Linked DNA regions of Homo sapiens: region 1 is linked to region 2. Evidence: fine-mapped expression QTL. Tissue or cell type: breast. Region 2 holds a variant in brackets; the other region holds the start of a gene. All regions are shown on one strand. Distances are from middle to middle.

Region 1 (8,108 bases), 780 kb before region 2:
GCTAATTAAAGTGTTAGTTACCCTCAATATATAATAGTGGCTTAGTAACAGGTGTGTTTGGGGCCCCAAAATTCTTTCCAATTGTTCTATTGGTGATGTAGCCTAGTAGAATATGATACCAACTCCATCTGCATCTCCCCAACACTCCCTGTGCATTTAGCCATTAGAATAATCTTGTTTGCAGGTATCCTTCAGAAAACACTGTTTGATGGACCTCAAAAGACATTCAGGTGTAAACAGGAAGCTAACTGGAAAGAGAAATGGCCTGATGGGGCTGATGGAGAGTTGTGTTGACAGTTTTTCCTCTGCCTCAGTGGCCAATCAACATTACGCTAGGTGAAATAAGCCAGGCACAGAAAGACAATTACTGCATGATCTCACTCATATGCGAAATCTAAAAAAATCAAACTCACAGAAGCAAAGAGTAGAATGGTGGTTACCCCGGCTAGGGGATGGGAGGATATGGAAGGAGAGATGTTGGTCAAAGGATGCAAAATTTCAGTCAGGAGGAATGAGTTCAAGAGATTCATTGCACAAAATGGTGACTATAGTTAATAACAATGTATACTCGAAATTGGCTAAGAGAGACTTTAAGTGTTCTCATCACAAAAAAATAAGTATGTGAGGTAATGAATATGTTAATTAGCTTGATTTAGCCATCCCACAATATAGACACCTATCAAAACATCATTTTGTACATCATAAATATATACAATTTTTATTTGTCAATTTAAAACATAACTAAAAAAATTGAACCCATCAAAAATGTAGATCAGCACTCATTGAGGAAGGCCAGGAGTTTTTTAAAACCCTATAAATACATTTCAAAGATTAAAAAGTTGAGAAAGTAACCCTTTTAAAGCTTAAGTTGAGCAACAAAGTAGCATGAAAATTATCAGAGTAGAGTTTAAGAGGGACAAACCAGTCTCACTTTTCAAAATGGAATCCATCTCTGTAATGTATTTCTTCTATTAGAAAATGTTTTGGGGATCTGATATGGTGCTAGGGGCTGTATTCCCTGGGCTATGACCACCATCTGATACCTTTCTGTGCATATAAGACTTATTTCCCCCACAAATCCCAAATTTCCCATATTCAAATGAAAACATTCTCTAAAGTTGAAAGACATCTACCTAATCTATAATCACCTTCTCTGAGAGCTAGACCCATCTACACGTGTCCCTCACCAGACGTCTACAGAGTTGGGTCCCAGCAGTCTCTCAGTGAATCTAAATCCTTGGCAACGGCAGATTGGCCAGCAGTGGAGGCCTGATCTATGCTCAACCAATCAGATTCTCTCTCCTGGGAATTTGGAATTGAGAATCAGAGTTACTCCCTGGTGCTTTGAAGTGTGGGCAAATAAACTTAGGGGCTGTGTGGTGGGCATGTTTGGCGATATGCATGCTGAGGCAGATAGCATGTCAGCCCAGGGTGGCACACCAGTGTGCAGAGAGAAGCAGAGACATTTCCTGAAGCTCAGCTGCACTTTCTGCCCAAGACCTCTGTATTCACATTACAGAAACCCCCTTTGGGCTGGGGCTGGTTTGCCCCCAATTGCAAACTTTAAAGTTTGCACTTATGCACTCCACAGGCCAGCTCACGACTATCTTGGCCCCCTCTTCCCAAAATCACCATCAACATCCCACCAGTCCCTTCTGAAAAGAAAACAAGGAGCAGCCACCCAACTAGCATACCTCGGGTCTGCCAATGCTTCTCCGGACCCTCGCTCCAACCCCTTCCGACTGCTCCCGGCTGAGCACTGAGAGAGTAACTTTCTTGGAGGACCCCATATCGGAGTCTAAAAAGAGAGTGTTCTGATGCTGAGCTGTAGAGGATGGAGGGCTAAAGGAAGGACAACAAAAAAAAAAGAAGTCATAAAGGAGGGAACATCCAAGGACTACAAAATAAATGATATTAAGATTAGATGCGCAAAATAGTAGCAGCTACAATTTGTTGATGTCTTACTATGTGCAGGGCCTGGGTTAGGTGATTTAAAACAACCATAATGATGGTGAACATGTATGCATACCTACTAGGTGCCCAGTACCCCACCAATTATTTACAACTATCTCATGTAATCCTACAGTAATCTTGTGCGAAGGTTAGCGATACAGTCATGTGCCTGCCACATAATGACATTCAGGTCAACATTACACAGTCAACAATATATGGACTGTATGTATGACAGTAGTCCCATAAGACTATAATGCCATATTTTTACTGTATCTTTTCTATGTTTAGGTATGTTTAGATACACAAATACTCACCACGGTGTTGCAGTTGCCTCAGTATTCAGTACAGGAACATGCTGTATGGGTTTGTAGCCTAGGAACAATAGGCTATACCATATATCCTACTACACACCTAGGTTATACCAGCTAGGTTTGTCTAAGTGTACTCTAAGATGCTTGCACAACGACAAAATCACCTAACAATGCATTTCTCCGAACATATCCCCATCGTTAAGTGAAGCATGACTTTAGCAGCTCTGTTGGCCCCTTACTAAAAATCTCCAATGAACACTTTGTCTTTCTTACTTCACTGAATTCTCTCGATCTCCCACCCCTTCCCCAGTGCCACTCATCTGTCAGCCTCACTGGTAGCACCCATGAGGTAGTTGCTACCAATGAGGCTGACAGATGGGGGCAGGTTTGTGTGGCGCCTTAGAGAAAATGGAGAAAAACAAAGAGGTCCCTAACTCTTACCAGAACATGCTGAAGATCTTGGCATTAAAAGAGATCTTCGAGGGTCATTGAATTCAAAGACCCATCTATTCCTGAAGTTCAGGGCCAACATTTTGGGCAAGAAATCTTTCAGCTTACTCATGAAGTCTCCTAGAGCATAGGCAAGTCATGGACCAGCTGTTCTTGGCAATGTATCTCATATTTCAGGACTTACCTATAGCCAGAGTTTGTTATTCGAAAGTCTTTTCCTCTTTGGGAGGTCTAGGTTCTAATGGACTATCCCAGAAGGAATATAATCTATCCCTATTCCACTTCAAGTGTTTGCAGACAGTACCCCCAATCCCTTAAATCTTTTCTTCAAGTGAAATATACCCAATTCCTTCAAAGATTCCTACTGAAACGAAGAGAGGTGCTTTGGCAAAAAGCAGACTCTGGAACCAGACAGCCTAGGTTTGCATCTCAGCTTCACCACATATCAGCTGTGTGACCTGAGGTTTTCTGTGGCTCAGTTTTATCTGTAAAATGGAATGATAAGACCGCCTACCTCAAAGGGGTGCAGTTAGTGCTATGAGAATGTTAGCTGCTGTTATTCAGAAGGGCTCTACTCCACAATACCCTCCACTTAGTCAAGGCCTACCCTAAAATGTATCCTCCCTGAATAGTAATCGATAAATATTTATTGGGTGATAGGTTGCAAGGCGCAGAAACGAGCTTAATACTCAAAGCAGTACAGGCCGGTCATCACCTACATCGAAGCAACCAGAAAGTATCTTTATCCCCATCTAGATTATGTCTGGGTCCTTCCAGACTCCTACGATTAAATTGTATGCATGTGAACAACTGATGAGGTACTTAGATCTCAGTGCTTTGCAGAAAGAAAAGCCGTCTACCATTTTCACCAAATTTCGTAGTACAATTTAAGTATCTCTTGTTATCTCCCCTAGGAGTCTAAAGTGAGCTGGGGAAGGCAGGATTTTGCAAACTGACCGCCAGCATTCCCTCACCTAGTGGACCCCTGCAGGAGCCCCAGGTACTCACGCTGCGGTAGCGGCACCTGGAGCCTTAGCGGCGGGGGTGACGCGAAGAGCCGCCGGGAGCGAGTGCAGGGAGGGCAGGTTAAGAGAGTGTGGGTCCAGTAGCCTCACCGTGACTCAGCGCTTCGCGGCCGGCGGCCTAGAGGAGGCGGGAGGCGGGAGTCTACGGGTCTCGGAGGCCCTGGGGCTCCGCCCTCGGGAATGTCACTCCACTCTCGCTCCGCCCTACGCCTCTCCCAGGCCAGCTTGGCGGCCCTTTGGCCTCCCTGCCTCTCGTGCCGGGAAGAGATGCTCACTCGGGTAATTTAGGCGGCACTTGCTGTGCTCCAGGAGGAAATGTGTGGCCCGGGCAGGTGCTCTGATCGGCGCTCCGGTCGGTCTTGTGGGAAATCTGTTTTTAACTGTAGTCTCCCTGTCACCCAGCCGGCGGAGCTTGGCGGCACGGATTCCAGTGCTGCCTCCACCGCTGGGAGGCACCACTTGACATGACCTGGGACAGGTGGCTCAGTCTCTCTGTGCCTCTGGTTCCTCCTCTATAAAATGAGGATGGTGATGATAATAGTGCCAGCCTTATCGGGCTGAAATGAGAATTAAATGAGCCTGTCACATTCTAAGCACTACAGAATCGTTTGTTCCATAGATAAGTTGCCTGCTGTTTGTCAGTTAGAATTGCGAGAAAAGGAGTGCGGGAGTGGGGACGGGCAGCCATACGTCTTTATTCCTGCCTGAAGAGAAGGCACACTCTAGTGGGGAGATAATTGGTTAAGAGTTTGTATGGTGTTGGAACACAGTGGGCAGGCGTTGGAGAGTTTTTCCAGAAGAATGAGGAGCTGGCACAAGCCAGTGAGGGGATCTAGTTGATTACTAGGATTATTAACTAGTGGTACAGGCATAGCTGCAGTTTCTATTCTCTAAACACCAGAAGGCTCATTGCCTGGTTTTGAGAAAGGAAAGACAGTGGTGTCTCTAAAATAAGGTTGGAAAACTTTGTCTGTGAAGGACCAGATAGTAAATACTTTGACTTTGCAGGCCATGTACATTCTCCAGTTTGCCTTTGTAGCAAGAAAGCAGCCATAGATAACATGTAAATAAATGAATGTGGCTGTAGTTCAATAAAACTTTAATTATGAATACTGAAATATAAATTCATAAAATTCATACAATTTTGAGTTCATATAATTTTTACTTGTCATGAAATATTATCCTTCTTTTGATCTTAAATGTAAAACCACTTAAAATGTAAAAACCATTCTTAGCCCTCTGGCTATACAAAAATAGGTAGTGGGCTACCTACTCATTTTGGCTGCAGGCCTAGTATGCAGATCCCTGCTCTAAAAGAACAGGTTAGTAGAGGAACGAACACTTTTCTCTGGGCTTTTAAAATATCAGTGGGGCTTAAACCCGTCCTCATCACCTTACTTAGGCAGTTCAAGGCTAGCTGAGATAATACACATGAACATTAAAGGTGCTATGGAATAACAAAGTATTGTTTCTTATCGTCATTGTAACTAGTTCTGCAACTGTCTCCTCTACCTCTGCAGCTGTAATAGGTGTACTAGGAGTGAACGTTTCTCCTCTTTGTCTCTCAGAAGCCAGTTACAGGTAAAAGCTAAGTCCAAGGTTGTACATGGTTAGAGCAATGCAGGAATTCCATTTACAGGCCCCTGCAGAAAAAAGAAAAGAAAAGAAAAAAGAACAAGTCTGAAAAGGTAGAAGACTTAAAATGAGGAGAAACAAAGGTGAGAGAGGGAAGAATTCTTACAAATGAACAAAGGGCGTATAATGTTTCACTGTAACAGGGTCCTGTTTTGAGATGAGAAATGTGACCCTGTATATTAAGCTTTGAGCACTTTTCACACTGTCATTGACATCCAGATCAAGATGTGGAGTAGGTGGCTAAATATATGAGTGTGTAGATGGACTGTTGATCACCTTTGGAATCTTGGGAAGCATAAAGAAAACTCATGCTGATATGACAATGAACAAAGCCTTCCCTAAATGATTCCAAATAACACCATTATAATCTTTAAAGACAACCACATTATTTAGGTACCTTGACTCTTTTCTTTTTTATTCACGAATTCCATTTTCCTCCTCTGTAAAACTTATTGAATTTCTTTTCAAAGATACATATTATAGAAGTACATGGGGCCAGGCGCGGTGGCTCACGCCTGTAATCCCAGCACTTTGGGAGGCCGAGGCAGGCAGATCACCTGAGGTCGGGAGTTCGAGACCAGCCTGACCAAAATGGAGAAACCCTGTCTCTACTAAAAGTACAAAATTAGCCAGGCGTGGGGGCGCATGCCTCTAATCCCAGCTACTCGGGAGACTGAGGCAGGAGAATTGCTTGAACCCAGGAGACGGAGGTTGCCGTGAGCCGAGGTCGTGCCATTGCACTCCAGCCTGGGCAACAAGAGTGAAACTCAGTCTCAAAAATTAAAAAAAAAAAAAAAAAAGTACATGGACATCTGAAACACTTCCTTATTTTTGTTTCTTTCTTCTTCAAGCCATCAACTCAAAAATTCTTTCTTGTAGATTTTGTTAATTTGCCCTTCAGGGCAGTGTAGCTGCTATTCATTAGATGACAAATGTCTCTGAAATATTCCATATTATAAAGACTCAGACTCACTGAACCCAGGAAATCAATTGGCTCCAAGTCAAGGACTGATTATTTTATAAATGCTAGTTTACGAAGGCCATAAATACACTGGGTGGTTAAAGACATCCAAAGATATCCAGAAAAGATGAGCACATGTGACTCCCATATCCACCCTCATGAGAGCATTCTGCACAGACACGGTCTGTTCCATCGACCAGTGCTCTGACCAAGAAGCTACATGTGATCAGCTGTTGCATGAAACTCATAATTGTGTTTTTCTCTATCTTTCCCTTGGGTTTTTGGCAGTTCTCCGAAAAAAAAATAGCTTATGACCCTTTCCTTTGAGCCACAGAACTTTCTAGAATCCATCACAAGCAAAATACTCTCAGGCCTGAAAGGCCAATTCATCTCTGAACCAGGAAACTGGAGAAATTTAGATGAATGATTCCCCTGATACTTACCTCAATTACCCTGATAACCTTTCTCAGTTTTCAGCTTTTGTAAAGTTTTGTCTTCTGGCTGAATGGAGGCCGCTTTCTAGATCACAGTATTGGAGTAAAAATTAAAAAATAATTTGAATAACTAACAACCTCTAGTTAATGTTATGTACATTAACTAGTGTTTATGGATTAAGTGTACTGATGTCCGCAACTTACTTTGAATGCACCAAAAAATAACAATAGCAGCAATAATAATAGGAATGACAACAAAGTGAATTAATGGATGAATAGAGAGATGGATAAACGGATTGATATATGACAAAGCAAATACAGCAAAATGTCAATTGTAGAATCCAGATGGTGGTGTATTGGTGCTTTAACTTTTTTTAACTTTTCTATATTTTGAAATGTTTCATGATACAATCTTAGGAAAAAAATAATTTGAGTCACAGTGGGAATCAGAACTAGAAGGATTCCAAAATGTTATACCCCTTTGTCTACTTTCTTTGCTTCCAACTCTAGCACCTTGTACACAGTAAATGAAGTGACTCTCTGTTGAATGGAGCTGTTAAACTAAATTCCAAGCTGCAAGATCACTTCCAAAGCTGGCAGGATGCTTCCAGAGTATGAGTTGGTGATTTATTTCTGTGAAGGCCAGATAGTAAGTATTTGAGACTTTGTGAGCATACAGTCTCTGTCTCAACTATTCAACTCTGCCGTTGTAGACTGAAAGCAGACATAGACAACACTTGACAGTTTGCCAAGTAGAGGATACCATCAATGCAAAGGCCGTGGGGCAGGAATAGTGGCTGTGTTCCAATAAATTTTATTCACAAAAACTCATGGGGCTCATAGTTCGCCAACTCCATGTAGACCACAAATACTTACCTCCGACTAGAAAAACAGGAGTAAGATTGACAAAATGCCAACAGTCTATGTAAAGGTTTCATGGGTGACAGGACAGGACATGGCTGATAACAAAAGGAAACAACAAACATTTTTGTGTCTACCTCCACCTCCTACTCACCCATTTCCTTTCATTAAAAACAGGGCAGTTTGTTCCGGCACTGAACCTGAGGTTTGATATGCAAGCACCCTTAGGAGAGGTGACATGTTAATCTTCAATTCTAGTAAGTGTGAATAATTCACATCTGATCCCAACTTACAAGCAGATTATTTTAGCACCAGAAGGAATACATGCAGGAGGTAATGGAGTGACGTCCCCAAAGAAGAGATACCCATGAACAAAGTTCAAACTGCAGAGATAAGCTGTTGGAGCCCTTGTGGTCTTACTCTTTAGTGAGGAGAGACAAATAATAAAGGTAATAAATAATTAAATTATGTATTATGC
Region 2 (8,108 bases):
TATGGCTGCATAGTATTCCATGGTGTATATGTACCACATTTTCTTTATCTAGTCTATCGTTGATGGGCATTTGGGTTGATTCCATGTTTTTGCTATTGTGAATAGTGCTGCAATGAACATACATGTGCATGTATCTTTGTAACAGAATAATTTATATTCCTTTGGGTATATACCTGGTAATGGGATTGCTGGGTCAAATGGTATTTCTGGTTCTAGGTTTTTGAGGAATCGCCACACCATCTTCTACAATGGTTGAACTAATTTTCCTTCCCACCAACAGTATAAAAGCATTCCTATTTCTCTGTAACCTCGCCAGCATTTGTTGTTTCTTGACCTTTTAATAACTGCCATTCTAACTGACATGAGATGGTATCTCATTGTGGTTTTGATTTGCATTTCTCTAGTGATCAGTGATGTGGAGCTTTTTTTCATATGTTTGTTGGCCACATGAATGTCTTCTTTTGAGAAGTGTCTGTTCATGTCCTTTGCCCACTGTTTAATGGGGTTGTTTGTTTTTTTTTTCTTGTAAATTTGTTTAAGTTCCTTGTAGATTCTGGATATTAGACCTTTGTCAGATGGATAGATTGCAAGAATTTTCTCCCATTCTGTAGGTTGCCTGTTCTCTCTGATGATAGTTTCTTTTGCGGTGCAGAAGCTCTTTAGTTTAATTTGATCCCATTTGTCAATTTTTGCTTTTGGGTTTTACATTTAAGTCTTTGATCCATCTTGAGTTAATTTTTGTATAAGGTGTAAAGAAGGGGTCCAGTTTCAATTTTCTGCATATGGCTAGCTAGTTTTCCCAGCACCATTTATTAAATAGGGAATCCTTTCCCCATTGCTTGTTTTTGTCAGGTTTGTCGAAGATCAGACAGTTGTAGATGTACAGTCTTTTTTCAGAGTTCTGTGTTCTGTTCCATTGATCTACATATCTGTTTTTGTACCAGTACCATGCTGTTTTGGTTATTGTAGCCTTGTAGCATAGTTTGAAGTCTGGTAGTGTGATGCCTCCAGCTTTGTTCTTTTTGCATAGGATTGTCCTGGCTATATGACCTCTTTTTTCGTTCCATATGAATTTTAAAATAGTTTCTTCTAAATCTGTGAAGAATGTCAATGGTAGTTTAATGGCAATATCATTGAATCTATAAACTACTTTGGGCAGTATGGCCATTTTCACAATATTGATTCTTTCTATTCATGAGCGTGGAATGTTTTTTTCATTTATGTTCTCTCTGATTTCCTTGAGCAGTGGTTTGTAGTTCTCCTTGAAGAGGTCCTTCACTTCCCTTGTTAGCTGTATTCCTAGGTATTTTATACTCTCTGTAGTAATTGTGAATGGGAGTTCATTCATGATTTGGCTCTCTGCTTGCCTATTGTTTGTGTATAGGAATGCTTGTGACTTTTGCATCTTGATTTTGTATCCTGAGACTTTGCTGAAGTTGCTTATCAGCTTGAGAAGATTTTGGGCTGAGACGATGGGGTTTTCTAGATATAGGATCATGTCATCTGCATACAAAGATAATTTGACTTCCTTTCTTCCTATTCAAATACCATCTATTTCTTTCTGTTGCCTGATTGCCCTGGCCAAAACTTCCAATACTATGTTGAACAGGAGTGGTGAGAGTGAGCATTCTTGTCTTATGCCAGTTTTCAAGGGGAATGCTTCCAGCTTTTGCCCATTCAGTATGATATTGGCTCTGGGTTTGTCATAAATAGCTCTTATTATTTTTAGGTATGTTCCTTCAATACTTAATTTATTGACAGTTTTTAACATGAAGGCTTCTATTAGTTCTATTAGCAAATCTCTATTATCAAAGAGATTTACAAAAATTTACAACAATGCAACTCTCCTCACTAATTTTTTAAAAATATAATTTGTTTTCATTAAATGTGTTATTTAGGTTAGCATGCAATCAGTTCATTATATCTATTTTTCAAAAGTATCAAATACTTTAAAGATTTCTTAATTTTCATTTCTAATATCACAAAGGCTGATAAATACAACCTGCTTAAACAAAAGCTCTTTAGTAGTCCTTAAAAGTTTTAAAAATGTAAAGGGATCCTGAGACCAAAGGGTTTGAGAATACATCCATTAGGATAAAAGTACTCTCTTTTGCTCTGAGAAACAAAGCACGTAAATAATTATATTTCTCTGTCACGAATGTTCACAGTATAGTCTCAACCAGCCATATTAATTATAATTTTATTTTAAGACAAGGCCTCATTCTATCACCTGAGCTAGAGTGCACTAGCACAATCATAGGTCATTGCAGCCTTGAACTCCTGGGCTCAAGCAATCCTCCCTTCTCAGCCTCCTGAGCAGCTAGGACTACAGGCACGCAGCACCACACTCAGCTAATTTTTTATTTTTTGTAAAGATGGGGTCTTATTGTGTTGCCCGAGCTGTAGTTATAACTTTTAACCAAAGTAGTTAACCTCTATTTCATACAGAAAAATGGATGAAGGTAGATAATTGAAAACTGTTTTTTTTTTTTTTTGAGATGGAGTCTCGCTCTGTCGTGCAGGCTTTTAATATAAAGGAGTATTTTAGTAGACTAGCAAAGTTCACGAACACACATAACACAACTTTCTACAACCACACACATCCCTTTTACATTACAGAATGGCTAACATGAACACATTCATTAAATGACCCAAAGATTTAGATTTTTTTTACATCATATAAAAGGGTAAGCAAAAGCATAGAAACAACACAATATTTAGTAATCAAAATCTCAGAATTGCATCTTAGAAATTATGGCCAGGTGCAATGGCTCACACCTGTAATCCCAGCACTTTGGGATGCTGAGGTGGGCAGATCACCTGAGGTAAGGAGTTTGAGACCAGCCTGGACAACATGGTGAAACCCCGTCTCTACTAAAAATACAAAAATTAGCCAGGCATAGTGGCAGGCGCCTGTAATACCAGCTACTCGGAAGGCTGAGGTGGGAGAATCACTTGAACCTGGGAAGCGGAGGTTGCAGTGAGCCGAGATTGCACCATTGCATTCCAGCCTGGGGGACAAGAGCAAGACTTCGTCTCAAAAAAAAAAAAATTATTTAGGTATTCAATAATTACTCACAAATTAGCTTAACTTGATATTAAACGAAGATTTTGAGTTATCCAAAAATCTAAAAAATTATTTAAACTGGCAGACTTCAAAAACTTAATTATTCTTTACATAAAAAGTTGTCAAAATTATTTGATTTTATTGCACACAAATTTATATTTTTTATAATCTTTTAAAAATTTTCAATAGGTTTTTGGGGAACAGGTCATGTTTGGTTACATGAATAAGTCCTTTAGTGGTGATTTCTGAGATTTTGGTGCATCCATCACCTGAGCAATGTACACTGTACCCAGTGTGTAGTCTTTTTTCCCTTACCTCCATCCCACCCTTTCCCTCAAGTCCCCAAAGTTCATTGTGTCATTCTTATACCTTTGCGTCCTAATAGCTTAGCTCCCACTTATGAGTGAGAACATACGATGTTTGGTTTTCCATCACTGAGTTACTTCACTTAGAATAATGGTCTTCAATTCCGTCCAGGTTGCTGAAAATGCCATTATTTTGTTCCTTTTTATGGCTGAGTAGTATTCCATGGCATCTATATACCACATTTTCTTTACCCACTCGTTGATTGATGGGCATTTGAGCTGGCTCCACATTTTTGCAATTGCGAATTGTGCTGCTATAAACATGTATGTGCAAGTATCTTTTTCGTATAATGACTTCTTTTCCTCTGGTA[G/C]ATACCCAGGAATGGGATTGCTGGATCAAATGGTAGATCTACTTTTAGTTCTTTAAGGGATCTCCACACTGTTTTTCATAGGGGTCGTACTAGTTTACATTCCCACCAACAGTGTAAAAGTGTTCCCTTTTCACCACATCCACACCAACATCTCTTATTTTTTAAATTTTTTAATTGTGGCCATTCTTGCAGGAGTAACGTGGCATATCACTTTGTGGCTTTGATTTGCATTTCCCTGATCATTAGTGATGTTGAGCATTTTTTCATATGTTTGTTGGCCATTTGTATATCTTCGTTTGAGAATTGTCTATTCATGTCCTTAGCCCACTTTTTGATGGGACTGTTTGAATTCCTTATAGATTCTGAATATTAGTCCTTTGTCAGATGTATGGATTGTGAAGATTTTCTCCCACTCTGTGGGTTGTTTGTTTAGTCTGCTGATTATTTCTTTTGCTGTACAGAAGCTTTTTAGTTTAATTAAGTCCCATCTATTTTTCTTTGTTTTTGTTGCATTTGATTTTGGGTTCTTGGACATGAATTCTTTGCCTAAACCCATGTCTATAAGGGTTTTTCCAATGTTATCTTCTAGAATTTTTACAGTTTCAGGTCTTAGATTTAAGTCTTTGATCCATGTTGAGTTGATTTTTGTATAAGGTGAGAGATGAGGACCCAGTTTCATTCTTCTACATGTGACTTGCCAATTATCCCAGCAACGTTTGTTGAATAGGGTGTCCTTTCCCCACTTTATATTTTTGTTTGCTTTGTTGAAGATCAGTTGACTGTAAGTATTTGGCTTTATTTCTGGGGTCTCTATTCTGTTTCATTGGTCTATATGCCAATTTTAATACTAGTACCATGCTGTTTTGGTGACTATGGCCTTACAGTATAGTTTGAAGTCAGGTAATGTGATGCCTCCAGATTTGTTCTATTTGCTTAGTCTTTCTTTGATTATGTGGGCTCTTTTTGGTTCCATATGAATTTCAGGATTTTTTTCTTTTTTTTTGTAATTCTTTGAAGAATGATGATGGTATGGTGGTATTTTTATGGGAATTACATTGAATTTGTAGATTGCTTTTGGCATTATAGTCATTTTCACAATATTGATTCCACCCTTTTCACAATATTGATTCTACCCATCCATGAGCATGGGATGGGTTTCCATTTGTTTGTGCCATCTATTATTTCCTTCAGCAATGTTTTGTAGTTTTCCTTGTAGAGGTTTTTCACCTCCTTGGTTAAGTATATTCTGTTTTTATTTATTTATTTATTTATTTTTTGCAGCTATTGTGAAAGAGGTTGAGTTCTTGCTTTGATTCTTGGCTTGGTTGCTGTTGGTGTATAGCAGGGCCACTGTGTACATTAATTTTGTATCCTGAAACTTTGCTGAACCTCATTTACCAGTTATAGGAGCTTTTTGGGTGAGTCTTTAGGGTTTTCTAGGTATACAATCATGTCATCAGCAAACAGCAACAGTTTGAATTCCTCTTTACCGATTTGGATGCCCTTTCTTTCTCTTTTCTGATGGCTCTGACTAGGGCTTCCAGTACTATGTTGAATAGAAGTGGTGAAAGCATCCTTGTCTTGTCCCAGTGCTCAGGGGAAATGCTTTCAACTTTCCCCCATTCAGTATAATGTTGGCTGTGGGTTTGTTGTAGATGGCTTTTATTACCTTAAAATATGTCCCTTCTATGCCGATTTTACTGAGTATGCTGAATTTTGTCAAATGCTTTTTCTGCATCTATTGAAATGATCATGTAATTTTTGTTTTTAATTCTGTTTATATGGGGTGTATCACATTTATTGACTTGCAGATATTAAACCATCCCTGCATCCCTGGCATGAAACCCACTTGGTCACAGTGGATTATCTTTTTGGTATGCTGTTGGATTTGGTTAGCTAGTATTTTGTTAAGGATTTTTGCATCTATGTTCATCAGGGATATTGGTCTGTAGTTTTCTTTTTTTGTTATGACTTTTCCTGGTCTTGGTATTAGGGTGATATTGGCTTTATAGAATGATTTAAGGAGGATTCCCTCTTTCTCTGTCTTTCGGAATAATGTCAATAGGATTGGTACCAATTCTTCTTTGAATGTCTGATAGAATTCAGCTGTGAATCTGTCTGGTCCTGGACTTTTTTTGTTGGTAACTTTTTAATTACCATTTCAATCTTGCTGCGTGTTATAGGTCTGTTCAGAGTTTCTATTTCTTCCTGGTTTAATCTAGGAGGGCTGTATATATCCAGGAATTTGTCCATCTCCTCTAGGTTTTCTAGTTTAGGTGTGTAAAGCTGTTCATAGTAGCCTTGAATGATCTTTTGTATTTCTGTGGTATTGGTTTTAGTATCTCCTGTTCCGTTTCTAATTGAGCTTATTAGGATCTTCTCTCTTTTTTTCTTGGTTAATCTCACTAATGGTCTATGAATTTTATTTATCTTTTCAAAGAACCATCTCTTTGTTTCGTTTATCTTTTGTATTTTTTTTTTTTTTTTGCTTCAATTTTATTTAGTTCTGCTCTGATCTTCGTTATTTGTTTCTTTCTGCTGGGTTTGGGTTTGGTTTGTTCTTGTTTCTCTAGCTCCTTGAGGTGTGACCTTAGATTGTCTATTTGTGCTCTTTCAGATTTTTTGATATAGGCATTTAATGCTATAAACTTTCTTCTTAGCACTGCCTTTGCTGTATCCCGGAGGTTTTGATAGGTTGTGTCACTATTATTGTTCAGTTCAAATAATTTTTAAATTTTCATTTTTATTTCATTGTTGACCCAATGATCATTCAAAAGCAGGTTATTTAATTTCCATGTATTTGCATGGTTTTGAAAGTTCCTTTTGAAGTTGATTTTTAATTTTATTCCACTGTGGTTTGAGAGAGTACTTGCTATAATTTCAATTTTCTTAAATTTGTTGAGACTTGTTTTTTGGCCTATCATATGGTCTATCTTGGAGAATGTTCCTGGTGCTGATGAATAGAATGTATATTCTGCAGTTGTTGGGTAGAATATTCTATAAATATTTGTTAAGTCCATTTGTTCTAGGGTATAGTTTAAGTCCATTGTTTCTTTGTTGACTTTTTGTTTTGATGACCTGTCTAGTGCTGTCAGTGGACTATTGAAGTCCTCCACTATTATTGTGTTGCTGTCTATCTCATTTCTTAGGTCTAGCAGTCATTGTTTTACAAATTTGGGAGCTCCAGTGTTAGGTGCATATATATTTAGGATTGTGATTTTTCCTGTTGGACTAGTCTTTTTATCATTATATAGTGTCTTTTTCTTTTTTTTGTGAGACAGGGTCTCACTCTGGTTGCCCAGGTTTAGAGTGCAGTGACACAATCTTGGCTCACGGTAGCCTTGACCTCCCAGCCTCAAGTTATTTTTCCACTTCAGCCTCCTGAGTAGCTGGGACTGCAGGTGCACGCCACCACACCCAGCTAATTTTTTTTTTTTTTTTTGTATTTTTAGGAGAGGTGGGGTTTTGCTCTGTTGTCCAAGCTGGTCTCGAAATCCTGGACTCAAGCAATCCACCCACCGTGGCCTCCCAGAGTGCTGGGATTATAGGCATGAGCCACTGCACCTAGCCTTCTTTGTCTTTTTTTTGACTGCTGTTGCTTTAAAGTTTGTTTTGTCTGATATAAGAATAGCTACTCCTGGTCGCTTTTGGTGTTCATTTGCATGGAATATCTTTTTCCATCCCTTTACCCTAAGTTTATGTGAGTCCTTATGTGTCAGGTGAGCCTCTTGAAGACAGCAGATACTTGGTTGGTGAATTCTTATCCATTCTGCCATTTTGTATCTTTTAAGTGGAGCATTTAGGCCATTTACATTCAATGTAAGTATTGAGATGTGAAGTCCTATTCTAGTCATCATGCTATTTGTTGCCTGAATACCTTGGTTTTGTTTTGTTTTGTTTTTTTGTTTTTTTATTGTGTTGTTATTTTATAAGTCCTGTGAGATTAATGCTTTAAGGAGATTCTATTTTGGTGTATTTTGGGGATTTGTTTCAAGATTTAGAGCTCTTTTTAGCAGTTCTTGTAGTGCTGGCTTGGTAGTGGTGAATTCTCAGCATTTGTTTGTCTGAAAAAGACTGTATCTTTCCTCCATTTATGAAGCTTAGTTTCACTGGACCCAAAATTCTTGGCTGATAATTGTTTTGTTTAAGGAGGCTAAAGATGGGACCCAACCCCTTCTAGCTTGCAGGGTTTCTGCTGAGAAATCTGCTGTTAATCTAATACTTTTTCCTTTATAGGTTTACCTGATGCTTTTGCCTCACAGCTCTTAAGATTTTTTTCTTCATCTTGACTTTAGATAACCTGATGACTATGTGCTTAAGTGATGATCTTTTTGCGAAGAATTTCCCAGGTGTCCTTTGAGCTTC

What was found. PIP is the estimated chance that this variant, and not a neighbour inherited with it, causes the effect.
Region 1: PIR starts here. The variant in region 2 is fine-mapped to the expression of PIR in breast (GTEx, PIP above 0.99).

The regions. Positions count from the first base shown.
Region 1 is chrX:15,489,468-15,497,575 of GRCh38, forward strand. PIR (pirin) reads right to left here and starts at 3,866. Exons shown (of 10, transcript NM_001018109.3): 1 at 3,723-3,866; 2 at 1,695-1,842. The coding sequence starts at 1,790. PIR-FIGF (PIR-FIGF readthrough) reads right to left here and starts at 1,842. Exons shown (of 15, transcript NR_037859.2): 1 at 1,695-1,842. RefSeq lists enhancers at 3,276-3,778, 3,779-4,282.
Region 2 is chrX:16,270,041-16,278,148 of GRCh38, forward strand. No RefSeq gene overlaps it. Among named protein-coding and RNA genes, the nearest start is that of MAGEB17-AS1, 110 kb to the left of the region's middle. The variant G/C (reference allele first, on the strand shown) is at 3,744.